Regions from separate parts of the Homo sapiens genome. Here region 1 is linked to region 2. Evidence: fine-mapped expression QTL. A gene starts in region 2. The other region holds a variant in brackets. All regions are shown on one strand. Distances are between the middles of the regions. Region 1 has its middle 28 kb from the start of CPM. Region 2 holds the start of CPM (carboxypeptidase M).

The links. PIP is the estimated chance that this variant, and not a neighbour inherited with it, causes the effect.
Region 1: its variant is fine-mapped to the expression of CPM in whole blood (INTERVAL, PIP 0.93).

What each region holds. Positions count from the first base shown.
Region 1 is chr12:68,958,218-68,963,596 of GRCh38, reverse strand. It overlaps a transcript of CPM not described here. Among named protein-coding and RNA genes, the nearest start is that of CPM, 28 kb to the right of the region's middle. The variant G/A (reference allele first, on the strand shown) is at 3,019.
Region 2 is chr12:68,930,220-68,935,598 of GRCh38, reverse strand. It overlaps CPM (carboxypeptidase M), which reads left to right and starts at 2,428. Exons shown (of 9, transcript NM_198320.5): 1 at 2,428-2,457; 2 at 2,759-2,921. The coding sequence starts at 2,762. RefSeq lists silencers at 2,049-2,158, 2,189-2,548.

The sequences.
Region 1 (5,379 bases), 28 kb before region 2:
TGAGAAGTTGTGTAATAGCCATAGAAGTTCAGTTTTGCAAGGCGAGAATGTTCTGGAGATTAGTTATCTAGGGGCCAAGGGAAAAGTTCCCCTTCTCCCTATGAAGTTTCACTGAAAAATCAACTCACAAAAGGCAGACTAGTAGGAGAAATAACATACAAATGCATTTAATGTGTACATGGGAACCTTCAGAATGAAGACAGAGGAAAGTGCACATTTTTATGCTTAGGTTCAAAAAGTATGTAGAGCTGTTTAGAAATATGACTGGACAAAAGGGTATGATGTAACTTTAACAGATGGAGTGAGGAAACCCAGCAAGGCCTGTCTGTCTAGATTCTTCTTGGCCTCTCTGAGCAGCATTTCTTCCTTCTGCGTATGGGACAGGACCCTTTCTGGAATGGGGGTCTTATGACCTACAATCAAACAAGGTAGGTCCGATCATTTCCTTATGACCAGTTTTTATACAGAATGTAAACCAAAAGTATATGAGACAGGTCCCGATCAATGTAGAAAGTTTACTTTGCCAAGGTTAAGGACACACCCATGACACAGCCTCAAGAGGCCCTGCCTATGTGCCTAAGGTGGTCAGGCCACGACTTTGTTTTATACATTTTAGGGAAACATGAGACATCAATCAATACATGTAAGATGTACATTGGTTTGGTCCAGAAAGGTGGGACCACTCAAAGTGGGGACTTCCAGGTCACAGGGAGATTTAAAGATTTTCTGATTTGCAATTGGTTGAAAGAGTTATTATCAATAGAAAGGAATGTCTGGGTTATGATAAAGGATTGTGGAGACGAAGGTTTTATCGTGCAGGTTAAGCCTTCAGAGAGAACAGATTGTAAATGTTTCTTATCAGACTTAAGGAGTCTGTTCTATCAACAATTCTAAAAGGAAGAGGGTACAATGAGGCATGTCTGGCTCCCCCTTCCCATCATGGCCTGAGCTTGTTTTTCAGGTTAACTTTGGGATGCCCTTGCCAAGAGGAGGAGTCTGTTCAGATGGTTGGAGTACTTAGAATTTTATTTTTGGTTTACAAGAAAGGCGGATGAAAAGTTTGATAATATTTTTAGGTTTTATAGCTGGCTTTCGGGAAAAGGGGTTCTGGTTTCTAGGACCCACGTGGGGAAGAGGGATTCTAGTTTCTATGGCTGCCCTCGGGGAAGAGTGGGACTGAGAGACAGGAGGCGAGCAGGAGAAGGTCAGAGAAAACCTTTTGCTTCTCAGGCTGCTTCTGAGGCCTTCATTTTAGGGTGTTGTTTTCCATGTCCCAACAGTGACACAACAGTGTGAATGTACTTAAAACTACTGAACTGTAGGTTTAAAAATGGTTATGATGGTAAATTCTGTGTTATGTGTGTATTATCACACTTGGTTTTTTTTTTTTTTTTTTTGAGATGGAGTCTCGCTCTGTCGCCCAGGCTGGAGTGCAGTGGCGCTATCTTGGCTCACTGCAAGCTCCGCCTCCCAGGTTCACGCCATTCTCCTGCCTCAGCCTCCTGAGTAGCTGAGACTACAGGCGCCCACCACCGTGCCCGGCTAATTTTTTGTATTTTCAGTGGAGACAGGGTTTCACCGCGTTAGCCAGGATGGTCTCGACCTGCTGACCTCGTGATCCGCCCGCCTTGGCCTCCCAAAGTGCTGGGATTACAGACATGAGCCACCACGCCCGGCCATTATTACCACAGTTTTTTAAAACCTATTTTAAAAAGACCACGAAACACTTTAAACATTAAAAATAATCAAATATTTTTTTAATTGCTTATTTAAATAGACTTATGATGGCTTTTCAACCTACACAGTTGTTGAGTTTTTTGTTGTTGTTTGTCTGTTTGTTTATTTAGTAGAGATGGGGGTTCACCCTGTTGGCCAGGCTGGTCTCGAACTCCTGACCTCAAGTGATCCACCTGCCTCTGCCTCCCAAAGTGCTGGGATTACAAGTGCGAGCCACCATGCCTGGCTCATTCAACTTATACAGTTGTTTTTAAAATAAAAAATACATAAGCCAGGCACAGTGTTGCACACCTGTAGTCCTGATTACTCAGAGGTTGAGGTGGGAAGATTGCTTGAGCCCAGGAGTTCAAGGTCAACCTGGGCAACATGGTGAAACCTCTTCTCTAAAATAAAATATATGTAATAAAAAATTTAGGCTGGGCACTGTGTCTTGCATCTGTAATCCCAGCACTCTGGGAGACCCAAGGCAGGTGGACCACTCGAGCCCAGGAGTTCAAGACCAGCCTGGGCAACATGGCAAAACTCCATCTTTACAAAAAACACAAAATTAGCCAGGCATGGGGGCATGTGCCTGCAGTCCCAGCTACTTGGGAGGCTAAGGCAGGAGGATCGCTTGAGCTCACTGGAGGTTGCAGTGAGCTGAGATCACACCACTGCACTCCAGCCTGGGTGACAGAGCAAGACTCTGTCTCAAAAAAAAATTTTTTTAAGACTATAGGTATTTTCATTATTTTTCTCATGACTCTTCTCATCCTTCTGATATTTGTACCTCAATCCTCAGACCACTGTCCCTGTCTATTCTATTTGGGTAACAACCAGTAAGTGGACATTTACAAATTTCCTAGTTTTTACTGGGGATGACAGTCCCCAATGCTAAGTTGCATCGCCTTTTACCTGCCTGACTGGTATACTAAAAAATCAACTCTCAGTTGTTATAGGTAATCATCATGATTAATAGAAAATATGTTACTCTTTTCACCTGTTCTGCAGATAGGACAAAGTAGGTGCAGAATCGTTAATTCACCTGAACAAGTCATAGCAAAGGTCTCAAATGAGGGCTTGTGCAGGGTCAGCTTTCTGGGCTTGAGACCTGTACAGTCACATAGGTTGCCACATTTAGAGGAGCTCCATGCTTGTTTGATGTTCTCTGTTATCATCTTGACATTTTTAATATATATATATTTTAACAAAAGGCCCCATATTTCCTTTTTGCACTGGGCCCTGCGAATTATCTTGCTGGTCCAGGACTTAGGTCACTGATCTCAAAATATGATGTTCTAG[G/A]CTCAGCAGTGGGAAGGGTCGTACAAGTAAAGAAGCATTATCCCTTTTATTCAAGATTCAGCGTAGCTATTTTATACACAATGGTCATACTGATTTTGCTGTAGAGCACTGCAATACTAACACTAGAATCCACCATTTAAAAGGGAAGCTAGAGCCCTCAATAGTTACATCCACGTTTCAGAGAGAAATCCCCACAAAGACGGATATAATTTTCTCATAAATATTTACAAGTTTTAAATAGTTGGATGTTAGTCACCCCATTTATCTTGGTGTTTCCTTGTGAATGAAGCCCATCCAACGTCGACATCGTATTGAGAAAAATCTGTGAAGCTAATGAAGAAAGAAGAATCAAGAGTGCCAAAAATAAATGTTTCCATCCTGAGCCAAAGAATGAATCACTTGTGCATTCATATGTTATAGAAAATGTGATTCCTTTTTTCCAGTTTTACAAGGCCAACACCTATCAGCAACACAAATTCTGACTTTTACTGACTTAGACTAGGTCTCAAAAGCCATAAAAAGGCCGTTCATGGAAATGAACAAAGAATGTATTTGTATCTTTATCTGAGAAGTCATGCCAGAATCCCTTTCAAATCAGCAGGGTAACATTTGGTTTTACATTTGTATGTTTTAGTGAGTTTTATAAACCCTGAAGCTAACCGATTTTTCTTGTAAAGTAGAGAAGTAAACTGATTTTGGGAGAGACGCCTGGGGATATAGCAGAGCTGAAATGTTTGTGCCTTGTTTATTAAACATGATCATCCTCACCAGAAATTACCATAGCATCAGGTTTCCCAGAAGGTTCTGAGGGCCAGAGTTTGTGCTTCACTTCTTCCTTATTCCTAAGGCAACTAACACGATGCTAGCATGTGAGAAGCACCCAGCAAACCCTCTCTTCACCCTCTCTCCAATTTTGGCCTCTCGTGGGAAAACCCCCTCCTTGCCCATGATGTTTCACCCACATCTGTCTTGACTGGGCAATGCCCCCATGCAGCCAACTTTTCATATTCTCTCTTTCACACTTTCATTATAATGTATTTGTCCTTGGTCCAACTGCCTTTGATTTCTAAGATAAAAATGATTTGAAAACTAACTCAGTCTTAAGTTTTGAAGAATTAACAGCGTAGTACAAGACCTCTGTTCTCCTTTAGGTAATTTTTTTTTTTACAATAACAATGATATTTTAAGGCAGTGGCCACTGGAATTAATCTAAAAGTTGAAATGTCTTATTAGGCAATGGGGATTTTGAAACACTTCTGAGTCTCATCATTTAGGTTGCAGTCTATGGAGAGGACTGGCTCTTTCTAAAAGATATTCATTCATTCATTTAATCATCAAACATATCCTGAAGACTTACTCTGTGCCAGGGACTGCTGTGGGTGCTGGGATGCAACACTGAACGGGATGACCAGGACCCTATTCTCATGGCATTCACATTCTGAGGTGGCAGGAATGTATAAATAAGGAGAAAATATGTAATAATAGTAAATGGTATGACGAAGATAAGACAGAGATGTGCAAGGAAATGACAGCTGGGGTGCAGGAACTGGGGGCTACATCTAAGTGGTCAAAGGTCTCTCAAAGAGGATGGCATTGAAGTTGAAACCCGAATAAGAAGGAACCAGACATGGGACGACTTAGGAGAAGAATGTGTCTGGCACAGGGCAGAGCTTGTGCAAAGGCCCTTGGGTGAGAGGCAGATCTGTGTGTTCAGGGCACGTGTGGCTATAACATAGTGTTACCAAGGGATGAGAGGCAGGCGGGGATAGTTCATATAGCGTCTCAGAGGCCAGGAAGGAAGAGGCTTTGGGTTTGATTCTGAGTGTGACTAGAAGCCCCTGGAGTGAAAAGAACATGTTCTGATTATGTTTTAAAACACCCCTCTGGCATTTGAGCTATAACTAGACTACAGGTGCCAGAGAGGAAGCAGGGAGGGGATTAGGAGAGAAACGATGGTATCTCGGACCAAGATGGCAGCAGTGGAGGTGTCACAAACAGCATTAGGAGGTATCTTGGTGATGGAGTTAACAGAACTTCCTGATGTATTGCATTGGTTGGGGTGGGTGGAGAGTCAAAGACTCCTGGGGTTTTGGTTTGAGTAACAGTGTAAGGTGGTTTCATTTCCTGCGACAGAAAAGCTGGGGGTGGAGGGGACTGAGTGGAAGGGGTTTGAGGGGAAAATTAAAAAAGGCATTTAAAAATCCCCTTTTTAAGTCAGGAAACAACAGAAGCTGGAGAGGATGTGAAGAAATAGGAATGCTTTTATACTGTTGGTGGGAGTGTAAATTAGTTCAACCATTGTGAAAGACAGTGTGGCAATTCCTCAAGGATCTAGAACTAGAAGTACCATTTGACCCAGCC
Region 2 (5,379 bases):
AACTCTTAGGCCAGGCAAGGTGGCTCACTCATGTAATCCCAGCACTTTGGGAGGCTGAGGCAGAAGGATCACTTGAGGCCAGGAGTTCAAGACTAGCCTGGCCAACATGGTGAAACCTGGTCTCTATTAAAAATGCAGAAGTTAGGCATGTGTGGTGTAAAAATACAAAAGTTACGTAGGTGTGGCGATGCGTGCCTGTAATCCCAGGTACGTTAGAGGCTGAAACACAAGAATCGCTTGAACCTGGAAGGCAGAGGCTGCAGTGAGCTGAGATTGCACCACTGCACTCAAGCCTGGGCAACAGAGTGAGACTGTATCTCAAAACAAACAAACAAACAAACAAACAAACAAACAATAAAACAACTTCTCTTTAAGAAAAAAAAAAAGATGGCCAGGCACGGTGGCTCACGCCTGTAATCCCAGCGATCTGGGAGGCCGAGGCAGGCAGATCGCCCGAGGTCGGGAGTTCCAGACCAGCCTGGCCAACATGGTGAAACCCCGTCTCTACTAAAAATACAAAAATTAGCCGGGCCTGGTGGCAGGTGCCTGTAATCCGAGCTACTCGGTAGGCTGAGGCAGGAGAATTGCTTGAACCTGAGAGGAGGTTGCAGTGAGCCGAGATCATGCCATTGCACTCCAGACTGGGCAACAGAATTGAGACTCCATCTCAAAAAATAAAGAAAGAAATAAAAAATTAAAAAAAAAATTCCAACTCTTGGAAAATTCCCTTTAAAGAGTTACGAATTAAGCTGGTTTATTTATGTAATAAACGCTTCGCACAGTTCTTACAATGTGCCTGCCAACCTTATTTAGGTAGGTACAATTAAGACTTCCACTTTACACACCAGAAAATAAGGCACAGAGTCGACACAGCCACTGAGTGTCAGAGCAAGAATTGGCACTCATCCCGTGAGCGCCTCAGTTCTTTTTTTTTCTTTATATATACTTTAAGTTCTAGGGCACATGTGCACAACTGTGGCACATATACACCACGGAATACTATGCAGCCATAAAAAAGGATGAGTTCATGTCCTTTGTACGGACATGGATGAAGCTGGAAACCATCATTCTCAGCAAACTATCGCAAGGGCAGAGCGCCTCAGTTCTTAAACCACTCTTCTATGCTGCGGCAGAATCACTGGAAGTCTCAGGGAGTCCTGAGTGCGCAATTCTAGGAAAAGTATCTATATCTGTAAGAAAGAAGGGGCAGGGAATCTAACGGTTCTCAGCTCTTGAAGGCACATTAGATTCATTCAAGGTCCTCTCTAAAAATACACTTTCTTGGGCCTCCACGAGAAAAATTCTATTCAATTAGTCGTGGGCTTGCATCCGTATTTTTAGTCTGTAAAAGTGGAATGTTATCTCAAATCAGTGGTTTTCAAACTTTTTATATTCTGCGGACCTTGACACGGGCCCCCAATACCCTGACACGGTTACTTACAATCCGGGAGAGAGTGGGAGAAAGGGGGAGAGAGGGAAGGGGAGAGGGGGAGGGGAGAGAGAGAGAATGAATGAGAATGAATCTTTTAGAGAGGTAGAGGGGGTTGGCCCGTGCCACAAACCACCTCTCAGGTTTGAGTGAAGCCTTCGTTCTCTCTCGTGCAGAGACCATGCCATCCTTCCAGAAAGGAGCATTTTAGGACGTTTTAGGACGAGAGACCTGTAATTGGCCTAAGACTCAGGTGCAGGTGGAGGAAGCATCGGATTTACAACAGTGGTCCTGCCTTCTTCGATGTGACTTCCAGTTTTAAATTCAATTCTAATTTACACAAATCCCACCCACTATGTAAACTTGTTGGAAAATGTCCTGCACTCTGCACTTCGTGGCATTTAAAACTTCCACACACGCGCGCGTTCTTTCTCGAAGCCCCGTGATTGCTTAGCCTCGCTGGGCAGCTTGGCACTGCTGGGAGCTTGGCTCGCCCTGCCGGGGCCGACGCCGCCCGTCCCGCAGGAGCCCGCGCGGGGCTCAGGGCACTCAGGACTCCGCATGCGTCCCGGCTCCAGGTGGGCCCCGGCACCGCCAACCGCAGGAAACCCGCCGAGCCCTAAACGTCTCCCAAGCGGCTGCAGTCTGCGACAGAGAGTGTCCCTCGGTGGAGCGCCCTGTGGCTGCCCAGGCTACAGCCGTGGCCGAGGCGAGGACACACTTCTGACCTGGGGCTCCAGCAAAGACTGTCCGCGAGCGGCGACTCCATGCCCGCAGCCCTCCGCCCAGCTCAGCCGCCCGGCCGCGGGCACCAGCAGCCGCGCCACGAAAGGGCGCACCGCGCGGGCGCCGTCTCTCCTAGGTGCGAAGGCGGCTGAGGCCCCGCCCGGGAGGCACCCGCGCGGCTCCGGAGTGGGCCGGAGGGACGTCCGGGGGCGGGGCCCGGGCGCGCCCGCCCTCTGACCGGGCTATAACACCCGGCCCCGCCGGGCGGCCGCGGGTGGGTAGAGGTGCGCGCCTGGGACCTGGTGAGGCTGGGGGTGCGCGGGGCCGGGCGCAGCTGTGGCAGCTGCCGGACGGCGGAGGCGCCAGGAGGAGGAGGAGAGGGAGGCGCGGGCGGCTGGGTCGAGGGCACCGAGGCTGCCCGTGCTCCCGGTCTCTGGTTGCACGGCTCACTCCCGAAGGTGTTGCTTCCAGCTTTTGCCTCCTTAGGAGGCAGGGAGCGTCAGTGTCGGGAGACCCTGAGACCGGAGTACCGAGACGTAGCTGGTGATGCCCCCGCCTGCCCTCATGTGTTCTCAGGTTCTTCTTATTTTTATTCATCTCTAGAACATGGACTTCCCGTGCCTCTGGCTAGGGCTGTTGCTGCCTTTGGTAGCTGCGCTGGATTTCAACTACCACCGCCAGGAAGGGATGGAAGCGTTTTTGAAGACTGTTGCCCAAAACTACAGTTCTGTCACTCACTTACACAGTATTGGGAAATCTGTGAAAGGTAGGGTCCGTCTCGTGAACACTTTGCCAAACCCTCAGTCCTCCCTTTCAGTATTCATTAAATATGCCCCAGCTTCCTGTCTGCTCTTCCACGCACCTACTCTGAGTGGCACAGAACAAGTCAACCGGTACCGTGCGTGTTGGTTGTTTTCTGCTTTTGTTGGGAGGAATAGTAGGAAGAACTGAATTTTACTGGACTTGTCCATTGTAATTCAGTGTCACTGAGTCCTTTCCATTATTGGAGTTCTTCTGTCTTTTTGGATCTTGCAGACATTGGTTATTTGGGATGTATGTTTTAGTTCCTTTTCAAGATAAACTCCCAAGTAAGTCCGTTTATCCGTTTCAGTTCCCCTTTGTGTGGGCTTCTTTATATATGACTTGGACTGTTAATGTCATTTCTTCATGTCTCTTTTAAACTGAAATAATGCAGTTTTGTTGGTAAGATTTCTGTGTCATCTGTAGTTAGCCTTTTATTTAAAGTTATGCAAAACTATCATTTCTGCAAGTTTCTTTTAATCTAAGTAGTACAGTTCTGTTGGTTAGATTTGTGTCGTGTATAATTAGCCCTATGGCTTAAAGTTATGCAAAAAAGTGGTTCTATGATTAAAGGCTGTTTTTAAAATGTATCCATTTGAAGAAGACAATGCTAGATAATGAATATATATTAGTAGTGATTGAAACTCTTCCCAGCATTTTCATATTTATCATTAATAATTTATTGTTCTAAGTTAGAAACTACATAAAGTTATTTTCATTTTTATAGACAGCAAGTTTGAATCAGATAAATTAAATAATTTGTTCAAGGTCTCCCAGATGGTGAATTTTATAGCCAGGACTGGCACCCATCCGGCCAAGGCAAATAATTTGATCAGATATCGTTATTTCATCTTTCTTTCTTTCTTTCTTTCTTTCTTTTTTTTTTTTTTTTTTTTTTGGTCAGAGTCTCGCTCTGTTGCCCAGGCTGGAGTGCAGTGGCGTGATCTCGGCTCACTGCAACCTCCGGCTTCCTGAGTTCAAGCAATTCTCCTGCCTCAGTCTCCCGAGTAGCTGGGATTACAGGAATGCGCCACCACAGCTGGCTAATTTTTTTGTATTTTTAGTAGAGATGGGGTTTCACCATATTGGCCAGGCTGGTCTCAAACTCCTGACCTTGTGATCCTCCTGCTTCGGCCTCCCAAAGTGCTAGGATTACAGGTATGAGCCACCGTGCCCGGCCGAGATACCATTATTACTTAATCATCTTTTATTATCCTGATGTTCCCAAAGAGGTTACCAGAAAACTTAGTCCTTAAATCAAAAGTTTCATAAATTTTATGCAATTTGGATCTCAACTTTTTGTAAGGTGTGTTCAAACTCTACCTTGATTTTAGCTCTGAACTTTTGAGTCAATTGAGAGTCTCATAATTACCATATTCTTCATCATTTTTCAAAAAAATCAAGGCTATGGCTTCTATATTAAAGAAAAAGTATTATATAAATGTATTTATGTGCAATGCGAAGTCAATATCCTGGGCTGTGTGTAATAGTAACTTTGTTTTTAAACAGCATTGCCAAAGAGATGGTGCCAGAATTACTCTATATTGCTCTATAATCCAAAATTATAGAGGTTGGGTGTGTGAGAAATCATATCTTGAATCAGCATACGTATTCAGCCTTCTGAAATCATTTTTCCCTAGGGCTAGAGTAGAGCAATTTAAAAAGATCTAGGAATACTAATTATATTAATTAAAAATATATAGAACACAACTAGCTTGAGTTATTGTTCAGTCATCATTTCAACCACAAGATGATGAGGATGTTGTTAATTTTAAGTACTAAGTGATTTGGTAAGGTTTTGTATTTTCAAACACAATGTGCTTGTGACAGTTGGGGGCTCTCTTTCCTAATATGAATCAGCAGTTGTGATCTATCCTGCATGATATCAAACCACAATCACAGTGAAAGTCAGCAGGCTTAATTTTGTTTTTAATTTTACCTTGTATGCACTCTTGCGGTTAAAGGCTTGAGGAGTTATCATGTAAAAATAAAATCTGACACTAGTGGTTAAATATTTGTGTTGAATATGTTGTTCTGAATAATAACTCGGATTAAGAAAAATCCCAAATCTGCCATTTGGCTCCAACTGGTAGATGAAACTGTATGCCAGTAACTGGGAGTCAGTTGCCAAAGTGTCACTGCACATTAGTGTGACAATTGAGAGATGGTGCTCCTTTGTTGGTGGTCTTTTTCACTAGATATTTTCCCTAACCATTCTGCCCTCTGATGTAAGATAAGTTTGCTTAGAAAACAGAATTTATGACCAGGCCCAGTGACTCATGCCTGTAATCCCAGCACCTTGGGAGGCCGAGGCGGGAGGATCACCTGAGGTCAGGAATTTGAGACCAGCCTGGCCAACATGGTGAAACGTTGTCTCTACTAAAAATACAAAAAATTAACCAGACATGGTGGTGTGCACCTGT